4 linked regions of the Homo sapiens genome follow. The protein of the gene in region 4 purifies or fractionates together with the protein of the main gene of each other region. This does not show direct contact. Each region holds a gene or a part of one and is shown on either strand. Other genes may lie near its edges. The genes, in order: ARFGEF3, TTK, ARFGEF1 and NPY2R.

Region 1 (7,738 bases), on a different chromosome or scaffold from region 4:
AACAGTAACATTTAAGGTATATGGTCACTTAATCTCCTGGGACCTGCTGCACCAACCTCAACCACTGACTCAGGGTTTAATTGAAGAGAGAAGTAAGTGTCTATGCTTTGTAAACCACTGTATTGTTGGGTCTTTGTTAAAACAACTTAGCCTTTCCATCAAATAACATGTACATGTTGCATCGTACTGAAGTTATTGATTGTTACGAGGAAAGTACTCATTAAATTATATGAACTCAGGAACAGGATTCATATTTTCCTATTTGAAAAGCAATCTCATTTGGCATTTTGAAGATGATATTTCACCAGAAGAATCTGCATATAGGACTAATTTTTTTGACATTTTAAACTAACTGAATTTGGATCTACAGGGAAAAAGTAACAATATATTTCAAGATGTTTAATATATCCAACACTAACCAATACATTTTAAGTAATCACTGTGGTTACTATGTGTGCACAATTTTGTAACACATAAAGAGAAAATTAATGAAGACATTTTGAATAGAAAAATGATATTAGTTATATTACGTCTCTGTTATAAACTTTAATAATTTCAAAAAGAGAAATTTGAAATATTGAGGAAAAAATTGATAAAAGATCTGTTTTCCAAAATCCTGAATCCATATTAAAGTTGATACTCAAAGAAGAAAGCTAATCTCTAATACTTTAATACATTGAAGAATGATTATAAGTTTATAGCCATTTTAGATTAAGATTAAAGAAGACTTTCCATTGCTAAACAGAGTTCACTGTTGTTATTAATAGCATTCACAGCAACTTATTTGTGTGAGCCAGAATTTTTAAGCAACAAAACTAAAAACATTGGAAAGAAATAGGCATCACAGAGCAAACCACTGTGATTGTCCTCATGCCCGCAACCCAGAATGAATTTAGGAACAGGCAAGTATGCCTGCTGCAGTGAATGAAATCATGCTTAGTAGTAACTATTCTAGTTAACAGTATGTACTGTTTTATACCTAAAACTGTTGTTTCAGTTTTTTAACATATCTATACATGTATGTAAACACTGGATGATAATGTAAAGCATATTTTCTACTGTGAGTTATAGAAAAAAAGTAGAAAGGTGTTTACTTTCCTTCATAGCCATCCACTGGGTTGTTTATCCGTGTGATTTCACCAGCTCTTAATCCACTGCAACCAGGCTGCAGTCATCATTTCTCCCGGGTCTGGCTTCCACGGGATCCTAACTCTCTCACATTCATTACATCATTTTCTGTGTTTATCTTTGTCCTTTCTCTGGATGTTGACCTTGTTGCCTGGATACTACTTTTATTTCATTTTTGTGCCACTTTTTTTTTTAGAATAACACTTCTGATTATAAAAGTAAAAATATTTAATGAAAAATAAACTCACCTATAAGCCCATCAAAGATAATCACTTAATATTTTGTATGTACTTTTGATAGATATGTATGTACATATATGCATGTATTTTTGAACTTATATATACATCTACATCAAATATTTAAATAAAATTGGAATCATGTAGTATACAAAAGTACATAGCATTTTACAATTTGCTTACTTAAGTATATAGTATAAGCCACTTTTCTTTTTTTTTTTCTTTCTCTGTCTTTTTTTTTTTTTTTTTTTTTTTTTTTTTTTTTTTGAGACAGTGTCTTGCTCTGTCGCCCAGGCTGGAGCGCAGTGGCGAGATCTCAGCTCACTGCAACCTCTGCCTCAGGGTTCAAGCACTTCTTGTGCCTCAGCCTCTTGAGTAGCTGGGATTACAGGCATGTGCCACCACACCCGGCTAATTTTTGTATTTTTAGTAGAGGCAGGGGGGTTCTCACCATGTTGGCCAGGCTGGTCTCCAACTCCTGACCTCAGGCGATCCACCTGCCTTGGCATCTCAAAGTGCTGGGATTACAGGTGTGAGCCACTGCCCCCGACACCACTTTTCATATTATTCAATATTTCTCTCCCACATTATTCTTTTTAAATTAAAAACAATTTTTTTTTTTAGTAGAGATGAGGTCTTGCCATGTTGCCCAGGCTGCTCTCAAACTCCTCGGCTGAACCAATCTGCCTGCCTCAGCCTCCGAAAGTGCTGGGATTACAGGCATGAGCCAACATGCCTAGTCCCCCACATTATTCTCAAAGGCTATATAATATGATGCTTTATGAATATATCATGGGTTATCTATCCATATCCTTGTTGCATATTTAGTTTTCTCTTTTTTTAGAATTGAAAGACACACTGAAATGCTTGTAGAAAGATCCTTATCCATTTCCATAATCACTTTCTTAGGATGAATTCCCAGAAGTGGAATTGTTAGGTCAAAGCTATACCTATGCCACATACACATCCAGGCTCCCTCCCTCCAGGAATGTAGTACCAAGTTACACTCTGACCAGCACCCAAGACATGAGAGGACCTTGTTGTTCAGCTCCTTCAATAACATTTAAAAAATCTCTCAGTCAATTTGATTAATAGAAAATAGCATCTTATTTAAAAGTTTGTTCTCTTTATTAGGCACTTGAACATTTTTTATAAGTTTATGGGGTCATATGTATTCTCTCCTCTGTAAACTGACTTTATATATATTGGCTTTTTTAAAAAAGAAGGAGCATTTGTTTTTTAATTCTTTGTTAAAGCTTTTTTTTTTTAACAAAGCTATTCAAACTTTATATGTCTGACATTAATATAAACATTTTCCTAGTTTGCAGCTTAAACGAAATTGTTTTTAATTGTAAAACTAGTAAATACTTTAAAATAGATTCAAAAATATAAATCCACATATAATTAAGATTTAGAGGTATCATCTTTTCTTCCTTCAATCCATCCCTCAGAGTATCATTTGCTTTTTAATTTTGTATGAAACTTTTGGCATAAAGGTCTTAAATATTCAAATAGTCAAATCTATTGACCTTTTTTCCTTCAGTTTCTGCCTTAGTTTGTTAGAAATAATCTTAATGCATTAAGATAAGTATATTCACTTATGCTTTCTTCTAAACTTTTCATCATTTAATTCTTAAATTTAATTTTTAATACATTTGTAATTTATTTTGCTACACGATATAAAGTTGTGATCTATATATTTTTCCAAATAGTTAACAATTTTCTTTAACCCAAGTACATTATCTGCTGCGGCGTTTTTACTTTTTTTTTTTTAAACCTTTCTTTAAATGATGGCTTCACTGGGCGTGAGGGTAGCGGTAGAAGCATCCTTGGGGGCTGGGACTTTGTAGGTTTTGCCTCCTCAGTACCAAGAGCGCCGAAGGAGTAGTCTGACATCCCCATGTGTTGGACACCCTCCAATGGCAGTCCCTCCCCTGGCTGACCCCCTACACCTCGGATTTCGGACTGCTCCTCTCAGCCTCCTCCCTGGGCCCTTGCTCCTGTACCCATGATTTGAGAATTAGGGGGGCCGTCACTCCCTCTCTTGTGCAACCTTTGTCAAACTCGAGGCATCAACAACTCCTATATTTACCACCCTTCAAATACTGGCATCCCTCCCAGAGCTCTATCCTGAGTTCCTGTCCATAAAAAAAATCTACAAGTATCTCATTATCATTTCAATCTGAACATGTTCAAAACTGAACTCATATATCCCCCCTAATCCAAACCCTTTTTATCTTCTCTTCTTTAAAGAATGGGGCCACCATCCTCCCAATTTCCTAAACAAGTAACCTGGAAGCCATCCCATATACACCGTCTCTCCCCTATTGTGTCATTAAATCCTATTGTTTCTACCCTTCAATATCTCTTGACATACTTTCCTTTATTCCCCTTCTACCCACCCTTGGCCTAATTGGTTTCTAGATTCCTGCAGAACCTTTGTTCTCCCAGCTGCCAGTCTGCCCCTCTGCAGTCCATCATCCTCACTTCCACCACAGGAACATTTTCAAAGAAAAAGGAAACACGGGGTGCCCTGTCACACTGCCTTCCCCACCGCCCGCGTGAGTCTCCTGGGGCTCCCCCTTTTCACCCCAATGAGAAGCCCTCTGCTGCGGCGGCCCTTGTGCACCACATTTTTCACAGGGCAGCAATTCAGCGCAAGAGAGGATGGGAAGGGGAGGAGATAGGGGTTTTTAGAAGGGGCTTTGGATTCAGGACGTGTTTGGAGTCTAACTCTTGTTGGTCTGGGAAGTAACCCAGCCTCTCTGGGCCTGGTTTCCTTGGGCATATCAAGCTCTACCCCAGCCCCACCGCAGCCCACCGCCCGCCGCGTGTTGAAAGCTTGACTGGAGTTTCCCTGCAGGCAGGGGCACAGTGTGTGCAACGCTGCATCGCCCGAGCCTGGCACAGGGAGTGGCCCAAAAAAGCTGTTAGTGACTGAACGCAAGAATTTTCCGGTTAGCAGACGACGGGATGCAGCGGGCGCGGCGCCTGCACCACGCTGGGGGTCCCGGTGTCCGGGCTGGGCCGCTCCGACTCCGCCCGCGGCCACCGTCGGCTCAGGGGGTGCGAAGACCGCGGCGAGGCCCCTCCCCGCCTGCCTCCCGCCGCCCGCCGCGGACCAGGCGCTCCCTCCCGGCGGCTGGCGAGCCAGCTCCGGACATCCGTCCCCACCTTTCCGCTAAGCGCGGCGCCCGCGGGGCCTGCCTCGGCGGTCAGGTCAGCGGCCTCCAGCCTCACTCTCCGGCCCCAGCCCGCAGCCGCCGCCGAGCGGAGCGCACCTGACCCAGGCGGGCGGGGCGGGGCGGCGGGCGGGGCGCGGGGCTGACGTGGCCCGCGGCATGGAGCGGGCGTGATTCATCAGCATCCGCGCCGGGGCGGCATGGGGGCGCGCGCGGCGGCCGCCTAGGCGCCCAGGGCCAGGCAGCGGCGGCTTCCCCGGCCCGGCTCGCCCGCGCTTCTCTCCCTGTGGGCGGCGGCCCGGCGCCTGGAAGGTCAAGATGGAAGAAATCCTGAGGAAGCTGCAGAAGGAGGCGTCCGGGAGCAAGTACAAAGCCATCAAGGAGAGCTGCACCTGGGCCCTGGGTAAGCGTCCGGCACCTGCTCGCCGCGGCGGGAGGGCCGCGCGGCCGGGGCTGAACCCGCGCCTCCGCGCGTGGGGCTTTCGCGGAGCGTCGGTCATGGGTGCCGTTCTGGCGATTGCGAGAGTCGCCTCGGGAAATTGATGTGGGATTTGAGAGTCTTGGCTCGGGCGTGGACATCAGCCGCCTCCCCTCCGGTCTCTTTCACTCTCCGAAACCTTCCTCGGGAACCGCTGTCCTCCCTGCCTGGCGGCCCCCTTCTCCTGGTCCCGGCGCTGGGGACGATGCTTCCCCATCGCCGAGTTAGGCAGGACCCGGAGCCGGTGCGAATCCTGGGGCCTGACAGCGAAGCGCCTCTGGGGAAAAGGGAAGTTAAACCAACAACCCCGATGTCGAATCCTTGGCGAGTGGAACCAGGAAGGAAAGGCTTGTTTAATTTGATTTTCCTGATAGAGGTCAGCTTGCTTAGTGTTAGCTTTCCTGGTTATTGCACATGAAAAATAACATACGGGCGGGGATCATGTTACCTCTGCAATTCTGTTGTGGTCTGCCCTTCAGACAGGTGGGATTTTAGGGCTGTGAGCTGTGCTAGCGTTGAAGTAAGTTCCAGGGAGCAAATTTGTGTTTCTCATCAGACTCAGGTTGCAGAACTCAGCAGCGGAAAAAAACGGAAAGACATTTCAGTTAGGCGGGGTTTGGGCAATCAAAATGGTCAGGATGGTAATGCAAATAGATCAGAAGCATACTTTGGGTGATGGTGATGCTTTTTAGAAAGGAAAGGCCAAGAAGAAGCCAGCGCAGCTAGCTCTATGGGCTCCTCTCTCTGCCTTGCTGGAGCCTGATGTGATGCCTCAGTTGCCACTCAATTGAAAAATGAAATTGACTCCCTTTCCCTTGCAACCAAGAACCATCACTGTCTGTCATGACACTGTGTGTGCTTTGATGCAGCCTGAGATAGAGAAGAGCCTTTAGCAGGTTTTCCACTAAATGTAAAATTTTGAGAGTGGTTTAGGTGACTCTTAATATGTAGATGGTCTTAATTCACATATGTTTGGGTGTGTGTACAGGTAATTATAGCAGCATCTTTTTTTAAACCTGTGCCTATCATCACAAAATTGTCTAGAATATTGTCTAGGAAGTTTGTCTTGTAGGTAGAACCAGCACTTGACCATTCTAGCTTACTGTTAAAGAAAAATGGACCAGAAATCTGAGAGAACAGCAAGGCTCTTAAAGCCACAGTACTATTTTTGCCGTTGCCATTGTCATTCAGCAGCGTGATTCGAAGCTAGATTCCAAAATGCCTCTAATGAAGGGTCACAGATGGCTGGGTAACATGATAAAGCAGGGCCCAATTGTGCTTTAAACATGCCATTCCTAGTATTCGTTATTATTTTGCTGCAAATTAAGCAGATTTAGATAAACAGGGAGGAGGAGATTAATCTAGTATTTTAATAAGTTTAAATACTGACATCAACATCTTATTAAGTGAAACCACAACGTTGCTGAGTTTAGGTCCTTTAAAGCCACTGGGGAGGCTGAGCATTGAGGCAGGTAAATTTTTCGAGTCAAATCTGAAAGAAACCAGCCTGAGTGGATGTACTTCCTTTCCCAGTGATTGTTCTGTCATTAGCAAGACAAGACAGAAGTGCATGAAATAGTTAAATAATAGTGCAGGGCATTCATTGTGCAGTTGGATTGGGCAAACCAGGAAAACAAGTCAAAGAAGGGAGGATAAATGTGTTGTCCATGGATTGGGGGAGAATTGGTGTGAGCTGGTGGGGCTTTTGAAGTAGATTTCACTTGAAGAATGGGGAAGCTATGGGTTCCTTCTTTCCGTCGCTTCTTTATTTAGGAAACATTTATTAAGACCTCCCTGGTAATGAGCAATGGGATATATGGATGAATAAAATGTTCCCTGTAAGGAATTTGTTAGAAGGGCATGCTGGAGACATGAACAAAGGCCTATAGGGATAGGTTTTCCTGTTGCCTTTCCCACTCCAGTCCATTTCCACTGCCCGTCACTGTTTAGATTACAAAACACCTGTCACTCTTCAACCCCCCAATTTATTTCTAGATTAATGTGTAAATTCCTCAGAATGCTCTTCAGAATCTAGCCCCAGCCTCTGTTCTTGTCACTCCCCAACCAAGATTCAACAATCTAGTGGCAGTCAGCTGCAGCACTTTGTTGAACATGCTGTGTGGCACACTTCTCTCTTTGCCTTTGCTCTTGCTAGTCCTTCTGTAGGGAATTCCCTTTTCAGACTTGGCAAGGTCCATCTTGTTTAGGAAACATTCCCTGAGCTCCTCAATAGGATAAGTTGTTTGTCTGGGTTCAGATCCTTGCCTTGATGACTCTCTTAGAGTACCTACTATTTTGGATAATAGTTGATTGTGTGCACAGGTAGGCTCTTACGGGCAGTGTAATTGACAAATATGTTGGGTGCAAGAGACAAAAAAGCTAGTTTAAGCTGAGCTATACAAAACGGGATTTATTTACTCCTTTAACTAAAATACCCCTTACAAGAATAGCTGTGATTTAGGAATTAGACACTGTTTCAGGGATCTTGTCCTGCTCTTTGTGGGTTGACTGACATGCTCTGCGTGGGTCTCCACAGTTTTGGGCTCATGAATCAACACATTTAGACCATCTCATGAAAAGAGGCAACAATAAACTTAGACCATCTCAGGAAAACACGTCTCATCCCCCACTTAGACCATCATGTGATGGGGAGGTCAACCGCTACTTAGGTCATCATGGGAAAGGGGGGTTACCTCTCACGTAGACCCTCATGA
Region 2 (7,876 bases), on a different chromosome or scaffold from region 4:
GTTCATATAAATACAAGTAACTTATTTATCGTGTATTTATCTTTTATGAAGGTATACTTTATCCAAAAGCTATATATTTTGAAGGAAAGAAAACATTTGGAAATAAGTGAGTTTTTTTGTAAGTAGCCTTTAAAAATTGTATGTAGTTTAAGAAAATTTTATGCTGTTGCAGGATAACTATAATTTTAGCATCCTACCTATCCATAGAAAACTAAATCTCTCCCACTGCCACTTGTACTAATTAACTTAGAAAATTCTCCCATCAATGATTTATTCATTAAACCTACTGCTCCAGTCCTAACATAACCTTCTTTACAACCTTAACCATTCAACATTATCTCTGTATACCTCATACTTACTTGTAAAACCAAACCAGCTTTACAAAAAATAAACAAATGAGACAATCATTTTCTTCTCTCCAAGTAACCTAAATTTCTGCTAGAGGCCCTGATAATTTCTTGGTCCAACAAACTCATAGTTACCGTGGTCTAGACCTTTGGAATTTATAGGACCTCTTGTGACTGTCAGGTTTCTCTCTGTGGAACCCCAACCAACAGAAACAGCAAGAATAACCTTCAGACAAAATGTTCACACTGAAATGTACTTTTTACTTTCTTCAGTGTTAGTTTTTTAAAAAGATAACTTGAATGTCAGTCTTCTGTTCAGGATATTTTGGTTATTACTAAGCAATATTAAATTCAGATTTCCAGAGAAGCTATTATTCCTTCTATTAACTTCAGTCACTTTCAACAAAGCCTACATCTTTACTTTTATAAATAAAATTTGTTTCTACTTTCTACTAAAATATAGTGCATGCATAACTTTGCTTTGTCGTTTTAAATTTAATTTGGTCTGACCTTAATTTTCTATTTTTACCTCCTATTGCTTTCCTAAGAAATTAGTCTGTGAAATGTCTAAAAAACACACATTGCCATCTGTGGCTTTGCAGATGCATTCCTCATGCCTGAGTACCCTATTCTTCCTCTAATCAACAAATAAAACATTTGTGTTTTATCATGCTAGTATTCCTATGATGCCCAGCATGCATTACAATGTAGCATAGTGAATATATAAATTCTCATCTAGAAAGAAACTATGGTTTTAAGCATCTTTGAATCTTCCTCAGTACTTAAAATACTCAATTGCCTTGATGTACAACCTTTGTTAGTGACATAATTAAGCACAATTATACTCCATTAAGATTTTGCTTAACACTAAAACTATCATTTTCTAGGTTTTTTCAAAGTGAACAGTCAGCCACCATGATTAGATCACAGGTTCTTCCATTTATTTTCAATTCCTCATCTATTTAAAGGTTAGTATAGATGTAAGAAAATTATCCAAAGGTCACCATTCAAATGACCAACCATTTGAAATACAGTAAAGAATCAGGCTTCTGAGCTAATACTTTTAGAAGAGCTAGAGTATTAAACTCTGGGCATTTTCACCCATTAATCATTGTTCAATAAATGTTTAAGTGCCTACCTACCATGTGCCAGACACCATTCAAAGTTCTGTGGATATAACAGACAAAAACCCTGCCATCATGTAGCCTGCATTCTAATGGAGGAGAAAGACAATAAACACATGAGTAAATTATAAATAAAGTGATTAGTACTATATCTTTACCTTAGAGGATACCCAACAAACAGTTACTAACTTAAAAGAAAAGAAAAACTCACCTGTAGTATCAGCAGAAATTTTATTCAAGCTTAGTTCATCAGTAAGGTCTTCATTTTTAAACTTATTTTTAATGTCTCTCACTTTGTTCATTATGGAATCAATTGTCAATTCTCTGCCACTTAAATCCTCGGATTCCATTTCTAAGAAAAAAACTGAACAGTCATAACTCCTACTTTAACTAGCATCAAAGAAAAAAATGCACTAGCTTTTTAGAACCCAGACGACTAAAGCATTCGTTTTGTGAACACATCTAAATGCAGCTATTATTAGGCTAGTATTAATGGAGGTAAGTGCACAACAACAAGGTACACATCTTTGTAATTTATTCACCAAGGTTTCATAGGCCAAGTATACTTTTTCCCCCAATATAACATCAATGACGTCACACTGTAGAAATCTGCAAATTTAGTGTCACTTAAAAAAAATATGATAGAGTGTTTGCTTGGATTTTGGTAGCGACATACACATAAAGATTGCTTGGATTCTGGTAGTGACATAGACATAAAGAATTCGTTTGGCAATGGGAATAACAATTCCTTTATTCGCCTGCTTTACTTGAGTAAATCTTCCAGTGCAAGTGCTTTCAAAGCAGAATATAAACATGATGGGGCTTTACTGATAATTAGGAAATCCGCAGATTTATTCTTGTGCATATCTAGCAGAATCACGATTTGCTACCTTAATCTAACACTAAGAAACTATTGTACTGGTACTGAGCACTTGCTTATCTGCATGGTGGTGGTGTTTGTTCAATAAAGTGTCTGCAGTCTTATTGTTAATCGTATCTTTGTGACTCTCAAACACCAACTCAGTGTCACTGATAACAATGCTGCCCCGTCTTCAGGTTTAACAATGAAAAAAAGTCATAAAGTTGCAGCAAGGTATCACTCCACCTCTTAAGTCAGGTTTGAAAGATAACTGTCAGATCACGGCCACCCGCTTCTTTCCCAGTTCTAACCCCCAAAACAAGAGAGACTGTCCTTTGGAAAACGATCTTGTGCGCAGGTACCCCACCACCCCTTCTTTCCAGCGTGGGCCACACCCACTTCTTACTTCCTCAACAAAACCTCCTGCATCACCCCACCGGCCAGACCCGCTGAGGCAGTGAGACATCCCCTCCCCCTCCAGCTCGTTTAGCCGCGTCGCATACCTGGCTCCGAGCTGCCCCCACCTCGCCCCACCCCTCACCGACCAGCGCTAACAATGAGCCCCTACACCGGCTGCGGCTGTTCCTCAGTGCGCCGGTGCACCGGTAAGACAGAACTTACCTACAGAAAGCTGCGCTGGGGAAATGAAAAGATGGAACCCAAACTCCTTTCCGCAAACACGTTTGAATTTCCCCGTCGCTATCACTACGGTCTCCTATTGGTCAATGCTAGCCACGTAGAAGCGACAGTCGTGATTGGTTCTTGTGCGACGGGGGCCGCCCCTCCTCCTGCGTCAGGCTAGGCCCGCCCCGGAAGAGCCTGCGGCCGCGACCCCACCCGTGCGGCGCCTGGGTTGGTAGGGTGCTGGCACTTTGCAGGCGTTCCCCGGACGCCCGTGGGCGGGCTTTCCTGGTCTTTCCAGTTTAACCAGGCCGAATTTTTGCCTGGGAGGTAGCCACTCCCGAGCAAACCTACCCAGTGAGAGGAATATAGGGGCAGGGACGGCTGCTCCTAGCATCAGGACCTAAAAGATGCACCTTGGGCCGGCCCTTTACTGACCCCACCGCCACCCTTCTCCTTCGTTTCCCGCGGTTCTCACAGCCTGGCTTAGAGAGGATGTGGCAAGAAAGGATCTTTCACTGAGCTACGTTCAGCCCTGCCGCCAGCTCAAGAATTTCAGTGCTTTTTATCCTTGAGCTTCTGCTTATGCCCTTCCATTATCCTTAAATGACTCCACGCTCTGTCTTCAAGCCAAGACCCTCCCCCTTGTCAAAATTCTGCGCAGAACTCAAGCGCCCATCGTGATTGCCCTGTCTGAAGTCGCCTTATCGGCCCCCCTCCCTCGAAGCCTGCCCCACTTAAGGGCTCAGGTGTCCTCAGGGGTAAAAACATCTCCCTAGTAATAATCTTCGCGGGTGCGAGGCTCTGCCGCTAAGTGGCTTTGTGGTCCAGGGCAACGGTTACTCCTCGTCTGCAAAACTAAAAGGGATGTGTCTGTTGTGCCAGCATTATGACATATATTCTGTGGTAGGACGGGTTGGTTTTGTGTATGTATAGGAAACTAACTGCAGCTGTCACTTGTTAACTCCAAAGCTATCCTTAGAACCCTCACATTCCCAGCTCTGGATAGCCACCCAGCTAGCGTGAGAGCCCTTCTCAATCACTTAATGCATCTTTCTGTGTCAGCTAGCTAGTATTTCTGCTTCAGCAGAGCAAAATGACTTGCTATACCATGGTTGGCTAATCACTTACCTTTGCACCATTGCATCTAATGCTTCTGCCTGGAAAGAGTTTATTATTCCTCCAATTCTCGTTGATCTGTTTGCGGCCTGATCACAAAGCTTGCATTTTCCTTAAAATACTGTTGCTGGATGACCTCACCCTAACACTTCTTTCTGTACTCTCGTTTGGTGGTCTCCTTCAGTCTTCTATTTTTAAATACCATCTATATGTTGATGGCTCCCAAATGTGTATCATTAGCTGAGCTCTCCTCAACTCCATACTCAGATATCCACTGCCTACTTATTAACATCTTCACTTACATGTCTCATACGCATCTTGAACTCAAAATGTCCAAAACCAAGCCCCTGATCTTCCTACCCAAACCTGTTTTTTTTACAAAATCTATAAAAGACAAATTCATTGTCTTAAATTTTTTAGCCCCAAAACCTTTGTGTCATCCCTGATCCCTTATCTAACTCATAAGCAGATTGAGTCAGGGCTGGCACAAGAGATTCCTGGACTCCTACCAGTTCTCCCCACCTCCACTGCCACCACTTCAGTCCAAGGCATCTGCATCACTTAACTGATGTTACCTGCAGTAGCCTCCTGGCTGGTCTCCCTGCTTCTGCCCTTGCCTCACCTCAATTTATTCTCTGACATAGCAAAGTCATCTTAAATCAGATTATGTCACTACTTTGCTCAAAACCCTTCAGTGCTCCCTTTCTAGCTCGGAATAAAATCAAAAGTCCTTGTGATGGTCTGTGACTATTGAGCACTTGAGTATGTCTAGTGCAACTGGGAACTGAATTTTTAAATCAATTAACCTTAATTGATTAATTAAATTTATATTTAAATTTGAAAACTGATATCTAATGGGATTATTTTTAAACTATTTAAAGTAATTTTTTTTGCTTTCTTTTTTCTAAACTTGCATTAGTCATGAATTTATTGGAAGACTTTTAAGTATACTTGGAACAATGTAAGTATATGAACCTACTTTTTCAACTGTAAATTTTGTGAGAACCAAATGCAGATGAAGTATTTCCAGTGAAAGTGTCTGAGTATGAAATGTGATGTACTGTTAAGTATAAAATACACTCTGGATTTTGAAGACTGAATAAGAAAAAGTAATAAACATTGATAATTTTAAAAATATCAATTACAGGTTAAAATGATATTTTTGCTATATTGAGTTAAATAAAATATATTATTAAAATTAATACCACCCCATCACAGAGGAGACTAAGAAGACATGACAACTAAATGCACTGTGATATCATAAACTGGATCCTGAAACAGGAGGATGACATTAATTGAAAAATTAGTAAAATTCAAATAAAGTCTGAGGTTTAGTTAATGAAAATGCACTAATGTTGGTTTCTTGGTTTTGAAAAATGCATCACAGTAATGCGAGATCTTAACAGAAAAACAATGAACAGTATACAGCAATTCACTGTACTATTTAATACACTTGGAATTTTTTTGTAAATTAAAAATTATTCAAAAATAAAAAGTTTATGAAAATTTAATTTCACCTGTTTCTTTTTATACTTTAATATGGCTAGTAGGAAATTGAAAATTACATATATAGCTTACATTGTGTTTCCACTGGACAGCGGTGATCTGTAAAATCCTACAGTTTTACCTATTTGACCTATTTATTTATCTTGTTTATTTTCTGACTCTCCAAACTTTACCCCCACTAGAATGTAAACTCCATAATACAGGAATTTTTGTCTACTTTGTTCATTACAGCATCCTTAGTGCTTAGAACAGTGCCTGGTACATTTGTAGGCACTTAATAAATGTTAGCTAAATACTAATATTTACAACCATTAGAGTATTTAAGAATCCTATTTTATTTAACACATTTGTATACTTCTTGCATCACAGTTTCTCATTTGGCTTTAAATCAGCTGCATCTGACAGTGAATAAACTTGTTCATTTTCAGAGTCAAGCCTTTCACAAAGCAATAAAATTAGCCATAAGATTATGACTTATTGTAAGATGGTAAGTTTCACATTTTTGTCACATAAACAAAAGTTTCGAATGTTTAACTTTGTCATTATCATCATGAAACTTTTTTGCTGATCTTTGACTTCTCTGTCAGCACAGCTGCCTTTTTTATTCCATTATTTATTTACTTATTTATTTAAATCCCCTCCAAGGAATTTTTTTTTCAATTATTGAGGTCATTGTTACACAAGCTCAGTAAGGCCCAAACTTTGATTTTAGAAACTAATTATTATACATGAATTTATTTTGTGCATATACAAAAGTTAAATTTCTGATCAATAATAAATCCAGTTCTTACAGCATGCAATCAGTTGTGTGCTGCTTTATGGTGGTTTATTCTGGATAAAACATTACTAGTGTATGCTGATTTTAGTGCATTTAGGAGTGACGTGAGCCCATAAGAATGTTGAGACCTGTATGAATACTGTCAGGAAAGCTAACTATCACAGAATGGACCAAGCCATACCCAAAAGAAAAGAAAATAATGCCAAGGAGAGGTACCAACGTACCTCATAGATCACAAAGAAAAACAGCAATGACAGCTTAGATTATGTTCTACAAAGGAAAACAGCAGTGACGAGTTAGGACCACTACTTGGACATCAGGTATTATTTAATCATGCAGGCAATAAACTATGCTAACAAACAGCAGAAGAAAAGTAGGATTCTCAGTTCCTATTTTTCTTTTTTCTCCAATATGAAGAATAGCAGTCAGACTGACAATCTTAAAAATAAATACAGGACAGGCTATATAAGAAAGACATTTAAATTCCATCCAAACTCTCTGACACAAATGAAGTGTGTGTGTATGTATGTGTGTGTGTGTGTGTGTGTGAGAGAGAGAGATAGGCTCTGGCTTTGTCACCCAGGCTGGAGTGCAGTGGTGTGATCTTGGTTCACTGCAACTTCTACCTCCTGAGCTCAAGCCATCCTTCCACCTGAGACTCCCAAGTAACTAGTACTACAGGTTCATGCCACAACACCCGACTAATTGTTGTATTTTTTGTAGAGACAGGGTTTTGCCATGTTGCCCAGGCTGGTCTCAAACTCCTGAGCTCAAGCAATGCACCTGCCTCGGCCTCCCAAAGTGCAGGGAAGCATTGTGATGGTCTGTGATTACCATCACACCTGGCCATAATTTTTTTTTAAATGTATCCAGGTTGGGTGCAGTGGCTCATGCCTGTAATCCTAGCACTTTGGGAGGCTGAGGCGGGGCAGATCACCTGAGGTCAGGAGTTCGAGACCAGCCTGACCAACATGGAGAAACCCCGTCTCTACTAAAAATACAAAATTAGCCAGGCGTGCTGGTGCATGCCTGTAATCCCAGCTACACGGAAGGCTGAGGCAGGAGAATCACTTGAAACTGGGAGGCAGAGGTTGTGGTGAGCCAAGATCTCGCCATTGCACTCCAGCCTGGGCAATAAGGGCGAAACTCTGTCTCAAAAAAAAAAAAAAAAAAAATATATATATATATATATATATATATCTCCATACATTTTCAGTCTCTGCTATATAGAGAGAGCCTCACGTAGTTGGTTAATATACCACAATATCCTGAAGAAAATAAGCAGGATATTGAAAAAAAACGTGCAAATATAATCCCAGAAACATTGCTGGCAATCTCTGAAAAGTCATAATAAGTAGAAGCAATGATAGAAAGCCAGAAATGGATGGACAAGTGTTACCTTTTTGGAAAAGGTAGAATTTGGAAGCTATTAATCTCTATAATCTCAATGTAGATTTTAGAATTTTAGACCCCTTCTGGGATCAATTACCGAACTGTTTGGAAGCAAAGATCTCTAGAAGCC
Region 3 (7,000 bases), on a different chromosome or scaffold from region 4:
ATCTCACGTGATGGGTCACAGTCAAAACACAGTCAAAATTTTGTTTCATGCACAAAATTAACAACAGTGCATAAGACCAGGTGCAGTGGCTCATGCCTGTAATCCCAGCACTTTGGGAGGCCAAGGTCAGCGGATCACCTGAGGTCAGAGTTTGAAACCAGCCTGGCCAACATGGCAAAACCCCATCTCTACTAAAAATACAAAATTAGCTGAGCATGGTGGCGCATGCCTGTAATCCCAGCTACTTGGGAGGCTGAGACAGGAGAATCACTTGAACCTGGGAAGCGGAAGTTACAGTGAGCTGAGATCGCACCACTGCACTCCAGCCTGAGCAACAATAGCTAAACTCCGTCTCAAAAAAAAAAAAAAAAAAAAAGAATAGTGCATAAAATTACCTTTGGATTGTGTATAAGGTGGATGTGAAACATTAGTAAATTTTGTGTTTAGACTTCAATCTCATCCCCAAGATATTTCATTATGTATATGCAAATATTCCAAAGTCCAAAAAAAAAAAAAAAAACAAAATTGAAAACATTTCTGATCCCAAGCATTTCTGATAAAGGATATTTAATCTGTACTTCAAAAAGTTAACAGTGTTTCAATGAAGTAACACTTCATCATAACAACTAGGATGGCTAAAAATAAAAAGGCAGTAACAAATATTGGTGAGAATTTGAAGAAACGGGAAGCCTCATACACTGCTGGTGGGTATGTAGGCTGGAAAAGAATTTAGCAGTTTCTTAAAAAGTTAAACATAAATTTATCAAGTGGCCCACCAATTCCCTTCCCAGTTTGTCTACCTAGGACAAATAACAGTTTACGTCCACACAAAGACTTATACACAAATATTCATGGCAGTATTATTCATTCAACCCAAATATCCATCAACTGGTAAATGGATAAACAAAATATAGGATATCTAAACAATGGAATGCTATTCATCAATAAAAGGAAATGAAGTGTGGATACAAACTTCATGAATGAACCTCAAAAACATACTGAAAGAAACCAGACACTAACGACCACCTGTGTATAACTGCATTTCATGAAATGTCCAGAAAAGGCAACTCTAAAGACAGAAAATAGATTAGTGAATGCCAGAAGCTAGGGATGACAACAAGGGCACTACAGATTTTATTGAGGTAATAGAAATGTTCTAAAACTGGATTTATGCTGATGGCTGCATAATTCAGTAAATTTACCAAAAATCATTACACTCAAAAAAAGTAAATACTATAGTATGTAAATCATTTATCAGAAAGTTGTTTTTCAAAAAGTTAACAGTAGTTATTTATCTTCAGCTAAGAGTATCACGGTAAATTTTTTTTTTTTTTTTTTTTTTGAGACAGAGTCTCACTCTGTCACCCAGGCTGGAGTGCAGTGGCGCAATCTCGGCTCACTGCAAGCTCCGCCTCCCGGGCTCACACCATTCTCCTGCCTCAGCCTCCCAAGTAGCTAGGACTACAGGCGCCCGCCACTACGACTGGCTAATTTTTTGTATTTTTAGTAGAGACGGGGTTTCACTGTGTTAGCCAGGATGGTCTCGATCTCCTCACCTCATGATCTGCCCGCCTCAGCCTCCCAAAGTGCTGGGATCACAGGCGCCAGCCACCACGCCGGGCCCCGTATCACAGTAAATTTTATTGTTGTAGTTACACTTTTGAAAATGATTTGAAGGATTCGTTTATAAAAAATATCAAATTACCAAACTTACTGGAATTATAAAAGCATACAGACTGAGTAAAAGCCATAGAGATTCTCTTCTATATAAAGTGCTTGGCCTTCAAAATATGTACTTTGACTGCTTATATTTTTATTATTTCTTAGCAAAGTTCTGACAGATGAGGATTGTTAAACAGCTGATTAAATGAAGTCTCAATGTACACATTTTTGTTAAGAAAAATTAATAGCCTCACATGGCGTTTCCTAAAGACACGCCAGTGGTAATATGAAATATTTTAAAGATTTTCTTTTTTTTTTTTTGAGACGGACTCTCGCACTGTCTCTCGGGCTGGAGTGCAGTAGCACAATCTTGGCTCACTGCAACCTCCGCCTTCCAGGTTCAAGCGATTCTCCTGCCTCAGCCTCCTAAATAGCTGGGATTACAGGCGCCCACTGCCACCACGCCCGGCTAACTTTTTGTATTTTTAGTAGAGACGGAGTTTCACTATGCTGGCCAGGCTGGTCTCGAACGCCTGACCTCATGATCCACCTGCCTCGGCCTCCCGAAGTGCTGGGATTACAGGCGTGAGCCACCGCGCCCGGCCATTTTAAAGATTTTCAAAGACTTTTCTGAATGAAAAGATAACATAGGTTATATAAACAAATTTAGTTACATCAAGTCTAAGTCTAAGCAAAACAAAATATCAAAAGCAGAACACAAAACTTTTTAAATATTCTTAAATACTTGAGCCCAGACCTTTTAAGAAGCTTTTCAAGAGCCTCTACTTATAACACACTAAAGCCTCAGAATAACTGCTTTCTAGATTCATGAAACAATCAGAGATGAGCCAAAGACAGGATCTGATTGTGTAAACATATGTACAGTAGACTCTGTAAGTGGAAACTTGAATAAAGAAATCAAAATGGGTCTGAAAAGTTAGGATAAAAGGGAACTTGCATTCATTTCCTAAGGCTGCCTTAATAAATTACCATAAATTTGGTGGCTTAAAACAACAGAAATTTCCTCTCATAGTTCTGGTGGCCCAAAATCTAAAATCAAGGTCACAGCAGAGCTATGCTACATCCAAAGGGAAGAATCCCTCCTTGCCTCTTCCTACTTCTGGTGGCTTCTGGCATTCCATAGCATGTGGCAGCAGTAACTGATCTCGTCTCCATTTTCACATGGACTTTTTCCTTTGTATGTGACTGTGTCCCTTCCTCTTCCTTAAAAGGACACCATTCACTGGATTTAGGGCCCACCTAAAGGCTCTAAGTTGAGGATCTCAACTTCACCTTGAGATCTTTCACTACATCCACAAAGTTCCTATTCCAGGAAAAGAACCAGACAAGTGAAAGGCTCATTTCTTTGATAAAAAAACCTCCCTGCAAAAAACCTGACAAGGCAGGCCGGGCGCGGTGGCTCACGCCTGTAATCCCAGCACCTTGGGAGGCCAAGGCAGGAGGATCACAAGGTCAGGAGATCGAGACCATCCTGGCTAACACGGTGAAACCCCATCTCTAATAAAAATACAAAAAAAATCAGCCGGGCGCGGTAGCGCTACACGAGATTAGCTACTCGAGAGGCTGAGGCAGGAGAATGGCGTGAACTCGGGAGGCGGAGCTTGCAGTGAGCCAGGATCGCGCCACTGCACTCCAGCCTGTGTGACAGAGCGTGACGCCGTCTCAAAAAAAAAAAAAAAAAAAAAAACAGACAAAACAAATTGAAATTATTTTGTGTTATTCTCAGTAGAAAATATCCTATTATATCATCTGAAAATTCTATCATTAAAACATTCTAAAATACATATAAAAGGCAGGATGAAAATGTTTTACTGTCTAAAAATCTATTTCCCAAAGGCTTTTTCTATCCTAGTGTCCCCCATTGAGGTGAATGCCATCTTCCTCTACCCTGAAGCTCTGGCTACAAGACTGGATGCCATCCCCTCTGTTAACCAACCCATCAGCAAATCCTGTGGATTCCAAAATATATTCCAAATGCACACAATTATCACCCTTTCCACCACCACCAACTTAGCCTAAGTCCCCATGGTCTCTGGCCACAGTGAGCCTTTAAAAACATAAACATGCTGTCACTAAAATCCCAAATCTGCCCACCCCCTCCCATCTTTCTCTCTGTCTCTCTCCCAGCCACACAAGCCTCCTTGCATCCTGAAACACACCAAGCACACATCCATCTTGCTATTTCCTGTTTCTATTTCATCCAAGTATCTGAAAGACTAAATCCCCCACTTATGTCACTTCTTTGCTCAAATGTCATCTCACAGATAGGACTTTCCTGACAACTCTAACTAAATCAGTACTCCCACCCTTTTCCCTTTAACCTTCTGAACTCTTTCTTCTGATGATATAAGGTTGTTACTATCACCCTCACCCCACTAGAATGTGTGTTCTATGAAAGCATGTTTGGTTCACTGCTGTATACCCAGCAATGAAGTAGTATCTGGAACATATGAGGAGTTCAACAAATATCTGATTGAAATATATACCTAGTTCGGAATGGCAACAATAACTTACTCATGTATTTTTCCTTTTCAAATATCTTCCTTCCTCCATTATGTGAGGAATATTATGACAAATATTTCCCCAAATTATTTCCCATTCACAATTTTCTCTCTAAGTTAAACCTTACCAAGAGACACAAATGAGTTACCTGCCCCTAGATGGGGTGGGAAAGAAAGCTAGTCAGCAAACAGTCCTCTGATCTCGATATTTCTACTGCTCCTTATTTCGGACTTTCTTCTCCTTCCCACACTATTAACACATCTACTACTTTCCCCAAACCTGTGTTTAGAGAAACACAGGTTTGTGCACTGATTTCCCCAAACCTCTTCTAGAAGATGGTCTCACCAGTAGTTAGGGTTATTGTACTTGTCTTTCTTTCCCCAGTGTCCCAAAGTAAGTTCCAAGGAACAACATATCCTAGGGGAGTTAACTGAGTTAGCAAACAATGAAAAAGGATCACATAAATTCAGGAAGAACTTCATTAAACAAAATTGAGCAGGTGTCTTTCTTGGAGGACTTTTCAGAATCTTAACTATGTTCATGTGCATTATAAATTTCCCAAATGGAAACAGATTACACACTATAATCCAAACTTATTTTTTCAACCCAAACTTATTTTCTTCAAAGAGCTTCTCTAAGAACTTGTACTCTGCAACATTTATTTCAGTCAACACTATTCTAGAGCAAGTGTCCTAAAAACAAATCTGAAATGTGAAAGAAAAGAACAAATACAAATAGGATCAATCTTTCGGTTATGTCATTAATTATACTCTTTTCTTCTACCCATCTCAAAAATTCAGGTAGCCTGGCTTACTGAAAACACCTTTTACTTTAGATATCAAAGAAGGCTTAAACGGAGATTTGTTAATGGATTTAAATTATAATTAAGGTGTTCACTGATGGCAGGATATTGTTTGGGGATAAATCATTTTTTCATAAATGGTGAAGAGTGATGAAAATTAATAGTTACCAAAAGTAGCATAAAACCAGGGCCCAAAGCATTCAAGTAATTTCCCCTCCACTGACGTATCTTTTTTATAACTCCACCAACAAAAATAAGGGTGGGATTAAAGGGGCAGAAGGAAGCAAGTTCTGAAAAGTTTGAGTCTCAATATTGTATCTCTGGATGAAACTATAATTACAGGTAATAGACTCTTATATAAGAAAACTAAGTCAGCAGGATCACTTTATAATATGATGAACAATATAAATTCATACCCTGTCTGATGCAAAAATTACTTCCCTAACAATTTTGTCTCCATTATTTTCCCATATACCTCCTGGGAACCCACCCTTATCACTGCCAGTATATGCCTCCCTTCCCTTTAAAACCTTCTTCTGGTCAGCTCTTCAACTTTTTCACTCTTATTGTGTATCAGTGACAGTTTCCAACCTTGAACTCTTTCATCCTAACATTTGCAGAGTATCTTCATAGATACTCTTCATTCGATGTCAGAAAGCATAAGCTGAACTAGTCACAACCCTAACATAAAAGAAACTCCTGAAACTTAGAGGCCTTACTGGAATAAGTCCCAACTGCACCCTCCCTAGCAGATAAACAATGCTACCTTCAAGCCCAATCCCACAACAATCCTAAATTCTTTGAAACTAAAAATAGCTCAGCTGTTGTCTCATCTGCCAGCAGATGGCCAGACTATTTTTAAGTCAGGATTCTCGAGAGCAGGAATGGATCAGGCTAAGCTAGGGCAGCCTAGACTCCCTCTCTCTGCAGAGAGCTGTAGTAGGGCAGGTACCAAAAGAGGGCAACCTGGAGCTGTTCCTGGGCCTGTGGGCTTCTTATCAGTTGTAACAGTGTAACAGTGTGGGGCGGGGGGGGGGATTCTTTCTTTTTTAACCATTCTTTACTTCAAAATGAAGTCTGACATAAGAAAATTTGAAAAACGTTTTACATTAACTCTGCATCCCTTTAAAGGTTTATTTTTCTTTCTGTGAAAATAAAAGTTCCTTGAGAAGTCTTTGAGAATGGATTGTTTTAATGAAGTAAAATTTCCCCTAATCTACATGCTGTTTCATAAGTTATACTTTTTGACAAAAAAAAAAGTTTTAAGAATACACAATAAGCTGTAATTTCATGAGTATAGTTTACAGAAAATCCATCTATAATTGGCCATATGTTAAAAGGTAGCTGAATTAATTTTGAATGGCAATACTCAGAAATCTACTCACATGCCAATACAATGATTTTCAAACAAAAAAGGATTAAATGTCTGACATACTATGTATTTTCCTGTTAACTGTCCATCTCCCTTCAGCTGTATGCTCAATAAATATTTGGGGAAAGAATGAAGACAGACAGGTGGGTATTTAGAAGGGTTATAACACCACCCACAAAATGATCTCTGTATCTTCACCATCCAACACCTACCCACTCACAATCTATAGAACCGAGAGGACTAAATCAGGCCTTTTCAGTTTGCTTTCCCATCCTGCTTAATGGCCACATAGATTACCAACAGACCAGAGCGGGCCTGGCCCAGGTCTCAATAGTGAAGTGGAGAAGATAAGTCTCTAACGGTCTTCAAGGACAATACATTTGTGGGAATACCATCTTCCTGCAAAATATACTTTCTGCAAAGACAAAATGAGTTATGCTTATCAATTTATGTTTGGGTGGTGATGTAGATAGACTGCAAGGGAAGAAACAAAGTTCACCAGGGATTAGCTACCATGAGATTACTGAGATTTTGCTTTGTTGGAGGCTAAATGTAACTTTACGAAATGTGGGAAAAAATGCCTCATACATCTCAAGTAAATAAAGTACTGTGGTGCCTAGCCCTTCCCTGGATAGTCACAT
Region 4 (7,190 bases):
GGTTAAGGTTTATGTAATGTGAACTTGGCTTAAGGAAAAAATTTTAAAATACCTCGCTCTTACTCCCTGCTGGATTTATGTGAAAGAAATAACTGGACAAAGGTACTGCAAATATATCCAAGATCATTTCTCACAGTTTTGTCCATAACAACAATAACTCATGAGAATATAATCATACAGTTTATGACTAGGCAACCATTAAAGGAAGGATGTATATTTATTATATTAAGGAAATGGAAATATGTTTTTGACATATTTTTAAGCTTAAAAGTTGAGAAGGCAGGCTACAAGTTAATTAAAAGTAGAGATTTTACACCAATATGCTGATGATGGTCATGCTGGATGATGAAATTTTAGACTTTATACAGTCCACCACTTACGCTCCCTATGTGGTTACAGTTGTCATTCTGTATACTGGGGCGGGGGGCGGGGAGAGCAGCTATTGGTTTCAGGACCCCTGCATATGCCAAAATCCTTGCATATTCATGTCTGGCAGTCGGCCCTGCAGAACCACATATATGAAAAATGGACCTTCTGTAAAGGCCATTTCACATCCGCAAACACTGTATTTTCCATTTGTGTTTGGGTGAAAAAGATCTGAGTTTAAGTGGACCTGTGCAGTTCAAACTGTGCTGTTCAAGGGTCAACTATATTTAGTTTTACATTCAAATTAACTACAACTCAATAAAATTTAAAATTTCAGTTCTTCAGTTGCACTAGCCACACGTCAAGTGCTCAATAACCACATATGTCTAGTGGCTACTGTACTGCACAGCCCAGATACAAAACATTTCCATTATTGCAGAAAGTTCTGTGGGACTGCATTGTTTTAGATAATGCCTATTTCTTCTATGATGTTTTTGTTTATTCTAACTTTTACAATGATTATAATTTTTATAATCAAAATAACAATGAAATTATTTATACCGTGGGGGAAGCATCTTTGCTGTTAAAATGAAATTACAGTGCAGGAAATCTATATCATGATTTTCTTTATCTAATAAGTATGTATCACAAGTGGTCCTCAATACTGATATTATTGAACTTTTTTAATGGAGAGCTTTTCTGAAATTTCATCTAGCTATCTAAAATATTTGGATTGTTCAGTTATTCAACAAATCTCTTACTTCAGAGTCTCCTTGGGAATATCTATTCAACCAGAAATGGAAAAGAAAATTACTTATTTGGCAACTAATCTTTGGCTGTATTCCTTTTGTATTTCTGTGCATTGAGAAATGGTCTATGGGGTAGGGGAAATGGTAGTAGAACTATGTTTTAAATATCTAAGGAGATTTGTCAGACATCAAATACTAATATAACATGTTACAATATTGGAGGCCCATGATGAGTCAGGCTGCTATCTATCTATCTATCTATCTATCTATCTATCTATCTATCTATCTATCTATGATTTCTTATTTATTTTGGCCTGTCCACTAGGAGTTTTGGATTTTTAAAAATTAATTTGGTTTATTTAAAATTCAGAAGATTTTTAACAATATGGATTTTGCTTCTCTTAAAAATCGTATCTGACAATACTGAATCAAGATTTTTGCAGGCCAGCTGAGTGTACTCTGAGAAGCAATCTCCCCATTTAGCTATAGCATGTGTTTTTGTGCTCTTCAAGGTGTTATGGCAATCAACATTTTCCACTCTCTCCTACAACCTAGCATGCTGGTCCATTTATGTCATTGGCCCTAACCATGCAGGCATCTGAGTTTGAGTCTGTTGTCTATTTGAAGAGCAGTCACAGCACATATTCTGGTTAGAAATGGAATTTCCTGAGCAACTAAATGATTTGATACAAAAGAAATCAAGCATCAATAATCTTGTCCTATTTCAATTTGGATTAATCGATATTTCACCACCACTTCCACAAACTCCCAAACTCCTGTCAGTGTCACAACTGGGTTTATGGACATTCATCAGAGTGGTTCATTGTTACTACAATACACAGGATATGTATGCACATTTAAGGATATGAATTAGACTGTGATGCACAAAAGTGTCATAAGCTAATTCCCACAGCTCTCCTTGATAATATGATACACTATGAAGTGACTTTCATTTCAGTTTATCAGTTTCTCATCCAATTCTGAACTTTATTAAAGGACATTAATCATAGAGACCATTTACTCTTTTGAGGTTGCTGACTAGATGTCTGTGGAACTATATGAATCTACTAAGACAAACACACGTCTATAAGAGAGTGAGGCAAATAGTTGGTTATGGCTGCTAATACGCTTCTGAAAGGCAATTTTAAAGAAGATAAAATGTGTTTTGTGCAATCAATGTCAGTGAAATCAGTTGAATTTTCCAAAGCAATTGCTCTAAAAGACAACACTCATCTGTTTTGCTGGATATTTGATTTGTTTTTGTGGTCGTTGTTTAAATCCATTTCTACTCTTTTAAAGTTATAACTTATTGGTATATGGTTCATTCTTCACCAATGCAGATATATTGAGAAGAATGGAACCTGTCACATATAACACATATTTGGGCAAAGAGTACTTTCTTAAGGAAAAAACAAACAAAACAAAACAAAACAAAAACAACTACTAAAAGACTTTAAGTGGAACTGTGTAGAACATGTTAAATATTTCCATTTCTGTTTACCTTTGTTTCTAGGTATTTGAAAAGCCCAGGCTGCTTTGTTTTATAAACAATTCCTATACTCCTGTGGGCATAATTCTATATTAACTGAAGATTAATTTCAGGTTACACTGTAAAAATGCCTTACAAATGCAATACTATTAGGGTGTGGAAAACCCTGAAGGAACTGAAAATCCAATCCATTTGAGGGAAGCCTTTAATTAACATCTTGGAGAATATGTATTACCTTTTTAAACAGATAAATATTTTTTTTCATTTTAGAGTAGCGGAATCTAATCTTAATCTAATCTTTTAGGAGTATATTTCAGAGAAATTCCAAGCACACCAGTATGACCATCCTTATTTCAGAAATGACAATGCATAGAGGAAAAGTAATGTGTGCAAAGCCTCCGAAGAGGATGGTTAAGTAAAGACTTAGGTTACCAGTATCAGGCTTTCGTTTTTGTATGTAGGTAGCTCTACTGCCTCCTCTTAAAACCAACAAAGGAAAGAGAGACTGGCTGCAAACTTTTAGAAGGAATGGCTTCGAATAGGGTTCCTGGGAGGAATCCCGAGGAAATAGACGCTGCTGCTCTGCTGATTGTCTCCACTATCCTGTTTTGCTCCTACCCACTAATCCAGCCTGGGAGGCTCTGGGCATTAGCGGAAGGCTTCACCACAAGGAGACAGGAGCGAGTATTCCATAGGCATGCGCTCCTAGTGGCACGAGTGGCTTGGGTCAGGATCAAAGAGTGAAGGATTCGGAAGTCAGCTATCTGGAGAGAGAGAGAGAGAGATTGTGTTTTATTCGTGTCCCATAGCTTTCCTATCCTATCCCTATCCTAGCTTTTAACCTGAGCCAGAGCTCACTACACAGGTTCCTGGCTATCGAGTCTGAATCTGCACTACTCAACTTATAAACTGTCTGCAGACACCTGTTAGGGAAATTGCTGATCATGGGCAGCAGGATCTGAACTCGCTTTACCTTCTCGTTTGGAGCACAGGGACCGCCCAGCTAGAGGAGCACCAGCGCACTGCGCCCCAGCCCTGGGCGAGGGTGCGGAGGATTTGTTCTCGGTGCAATCCTGCTGGCGCTTTTCCGGGGTTCTGCGCGGATCCAGCTCCCCATCTCTGCTCCTACACACACAAAAGAAAACAACTCTCGATTGGAAGTTGTGGAATTTTCTCAGCCCCTACGAGGCGCGGGGATTCTCCAGCCCCGGCCCTCCTCCCGCCAGCCTGAGGTCTCCTTCGCTCGCCTGCCTTGCTAGGGACCGCAGTCCCTCAGCCGCAGCTGGGTCTGTCCGCCCCGCCTTTGCCCTCGCCTTTTCCCGGGGCGGATTTGGTGAAGTCGGCCTCAAGTCCAGGAGGTCTGTCTTCGCCGGGCCAGCTCTCGCGGAACTGGGGGGTAGAGAGCAAAGGGAGAGATTCGTGGAAGGGAAGGGAGGTAGGGGTGGCGCAAACGCCCAGAGTATCAAACTTGGGGGTGGCACAGTAGGTGACAGCAGCAGCTGCAGGTGGTGGCTGGGGACCCGCGAGGGGGCGCCCCTCTGGGTAGGGTCTGGCTGAGCGGGCTTGCAAGCCCGGGAGGCGGCTGAGAGACCCTGGACACTGTTCCTGCTCCCTCGCCACCAAAACTTCTCCTCCAGTCCCCTCCCCTGCAGGACCATCGCCCGCAGCCTCTGCACCTGTTTTCTTGTGTTTAAGGGTGGGGTTTGCCCCCCTCCCCACGCTCCCATCTCTGATCCTCCCACCTTCACCCGCCCACCCCGCGAGTGAGTGCGGTGCCCAGGCGCGCTTGGCCTGAGAGGTCGGCAGCAGACCCGGCAGCGCCAACCGCCCAGCCGCTCTGACTGCTCCGGCTGCCCGCCCGCGCGGCGCGGGCTGTCCTGGACCCTAGGAGGGGACGGAACCGGACTTGCCTTTGGGCACCTTCCAGGGCCCTCTCCAGGTCGGCTGGCTAATCATCGGACAGACGGACTGCACACATCTTGTTTCCGCGTCTCCGCAAAAACGCGAGGTCCAGGTCAGTAAGTGTAATTCCTAACTCTGATCACCTCCTGGGAACAAGAAAATCCCTAGAGGAGCGCTCGGTTCCTATGAAGAGGGACATGAGGAGGTCCTCATGAGTGTATGGACTTTTTCCTCCTCCTTTAGGCGGGAGGTGGCGATTTGGAGGATGTAATACCATCCCCATTTTCTACTTTCTCTAGATTTTCCCTTTTCTGTTGAAGATTATTTACTATTTCCTTGACCCTTCTTTGAGATAGGTCATTATCTTTCCAGAACAGTAAGTTGTTATTGTTCCTGCCTCTTTAAAAATCAAACACTTGTCTAAAGCAGAAGGTCCTATTGGATTCTCCAAAGCCGTTCAAGAGGAGACACATTCATTTAAGCGTTTGCTCATTTTCCATCAGAAAGGCTCACCCACTGGCAGGAGCTTTTGGTGGCAGGGAAAGAGGCAAAATTAAAAGCTTTGAGACTTTTTGCAATAGGTACACATCATTTAAAATTCAGTGACATGAAATGGAGATGCTGTTTCCAAAGAAAGGCTTCCCACACCCTTTGGTGAATATTTTCAACTTTCTACTGATTAGCCAAACAATCATGTCTTGTATGTAGCATTCTTGAAACTTCCCTTCTTCCCCCTCCCCTGCCCCCATTCCTAGAACTAATTAGTGTAGGCAAATGCAGGGCTTTTGATTTCTGAGACTGATTTCTGAGATATTTTTCCCTGGGAAAAATGTTCTGGAAGACATTGTGCTTGATAAGATGTGTAGGTTTACTAAGGCCAACCTGTGACAATATTGTTGCAAAAAGCCCCCACAGATTTAAACATCTCTCCTCAAAGCATGAACTGGTCTCTGACTCAAATAACTTGAGGTTATTTGAATCTCGGGTGGTGGGCTGCTGGGGGAAGTCCTGAAACTCTTTTCCTATTCTGCAAAGAAATGTTTCTATGACAAAGTTTCTAAGGATTCCCTTATTCAGGAAAATTGTACCAGTAAAAGTTCTCTTTAAATGTCTTAAAGTAATGTAAATATCTCATTTTGCCTTATTTCAAAGAAAGGTTATTCCCTTGTCTGCTTGCTGTTTCCTTTGTGTGCTTTTGATGGCAACTTCCTCTGTGTACCATTTTCCTTTCCCACTTTTCCAGAAGTGCTGTCATGAAATGATGCATTTTCTGCTCTGGGTAATGTTTTGACCTGGCTGAAGGGAGTAACCTGCTTAAGCACAGCTAACACTGTCTATATTCTAAGAGCTTGTAGATCAACAACCATTCCTACAGAGAAGTTGTAAATAAAAGGGCTTCAAAATTTATAAAACAAGACTGAGAAGAAAAAGCAAAGCAAATCAAAAAATCAAGTATACTCTTCCTCCTAGTAACCTTCAATCTCATGCTTCCTCTCAATTTAGTCAGGTATAACCTCCAAACTCCAGCCTCTTGGAGTCTCTTTAATTCTGTAAATGGCTAAATGGCTTGTCAGGATTGAGTAACTGTACTCTAAAACCAGTCTCTTTCTTAGTCTAGGGGATATGGTGTGGGCTATCAAACATACACTCCAAGATATGAATGATTTGTTTCAGATTTCTCTAATTACTAAGGAGTGGAGGCACATGTGAAAAGAGGCTGGGGCTCCTTGGAATGTTCTATGTGAAATTTATGCAGAGGGAGCAGGAATATATCAGTACGGCAAACACCTGAGTACATGGAAACTCTCATGTCTCTCTGTATAGTAAGGCTCCTGTGGAAGGGTGAGTGGTGAGAGACAGAGAGTGAGGGAAAGATGCGGAAAGAGAAAAAAAAGTGAGATAAATGGAGCGGGAGAAAGAGAGTTGGGGGAGCAGAAACCTTTGAAACAGAAAGTTTTCTTTATGGGTTATACTGACAATTTAAAATGTTATAATCAGGAATTAATTTAACAGGGTCTCAGGACAATTTTTTTTTTGTATAAGCAGTTATCTGATTAAGAATAAGAAAATAAGCATATGGATGTTATGTCATAGGGAAGAACCCTACATAGGCAGTTGTCTTCAGTAAAGGAAAGGATCAAAATTATACTTTCCATTTGGCTGACATTGATTATTCAGTATAATTGTGCTTTCCTTTAGCTTTATATTTGTTCTGACAAATTGCTGAGTACCTTTAATATGCTATATAGTGTGCTAGGGATTAAACAATGGAGGAAGAAGGTCTAGGTTCTGTCTTCAAAGAGATTGCTGTGGTGGGTAAACGAAGGAAAACAGTCACAACGTGGCATGTGGTACATGCGGCATTAGAAGTGAGCACAGGGGCTTGGGGTAACTGAGAGGCTTCCCAGTTTAAAACGGGGAGGGCAGAGAGGCATGAAAAAGGCTCAGGTGTTACTGGAATTGGAAGTAAGGCAGTATGACAGAAGTGGACAGTATATATTGGGCTGTCAGCAGAGATGAGGCCAGAGGGATATGCAGGGATGAGTTCAAGAAAAGCCTCGAATGTCAGGCTAAGGAGTTGGGATTTTCTTCTATAGGCCAGTGTTGTCAACCTGTGGGTGCAGATCCTTTGGTGGGAGAGCAAATTAATGAAAGCATACATGTATGTTATTATCAGATCATGC

What was found.
Region 1: the proteins of NPY2R (region 4) and ARFGEF3 purify together in Homo sapiens (affinity purification with mass spectrometry; 2 studies listed by BioGRID and IntAct, with this or other methods). This does not show direct contact.
Region 2: the proteins of NPY2R (region 4) and TTK purify together in Homo sapiens (affinity purification with mass spectrometry; 2 studies listed by BioGRID and IntAct, with this or other methods). This does not show direct contact.
Region 3: the proteins of NPY2R (region 4) and ARFGEF1 purify together in Homo sapiens (affinity purification with mass spectrometry; 2 studies listed by BioGRID and IntAct, with this or other methods). This does not show direct contact.

The regions. Positions count from the first base shown.
Region 1 is NC_000006.12:138,157,223-138,164,960, forward strand, and holds the start of ARFGEF3 (brefeldin A-inhibited guanine nucleotide-exchange protein 3), read left to right. Parts: upstream 1-4,716; 5' UTR 4,717-4,864; coding exon 4,865-4,949; intron 4,950-7,738. UniProt on the Homo sapiens protein: Participates in the regulation of systemic glucose homeostasis, where it negatively regulates insulin granule biogenesis in pancreatic islet beta cells. Also regulates glucagon granule production in pancreatic alpha cells.
Region 2 is NC_000006.12:79,999,789-80,007,664, reverse strand, and holds the start of TTK (dual specificity protein kinase TTK), read right to left. Parts: upstream 3,017-7,876; 5' UTR 2,952-3,016; intron 1,836-2,951; exon of another isoform or gene 1,824-1,835; 5' UTR 1,822-1,823; coding exon 1,683-1,821; intron 1,561-1,682; exon of another isoform or gene 1,490-1,560; intron 1-1,489.
Region 3 is NC_000008.11:67,333,782-67,340,781, forward strand, and holds part of ARFGEF1 (brefeldin A-inhibited guanine nucleotide-exchange protein 1), read right to left. Parts: intron 1-7,000. UniProt on the Homo sapiens protein: Promotes guanine-nucleotide exchange on ARF1 and ARF3. Promotes the activation of ARF1/ARF3 through replacement of GDP with GTP. Involved in vesicular trafficking.
Region 4 is NC_000004.12:155,204,448-155,211,637, forward strand, and holds the start of NPY2R (neuropeptide Y receptor type 2), read left to right. Parts: upstream 1-4,188; 5' UTR 4,189-4,622; intron 4,623-7,190. UniProt on the Homo sapiens protein: Receptor for neuropeptide Y and peptide YY. The rank order of affinity of this receptor for pancreatic polypeptides is PYY > NPY > PYY (3-36) > NPY (2-36) > [Ile-31, Gln-34] PP > [Leu-31, Pro-34] NPY > PP, [Pro-34] PYY and NPY free acid.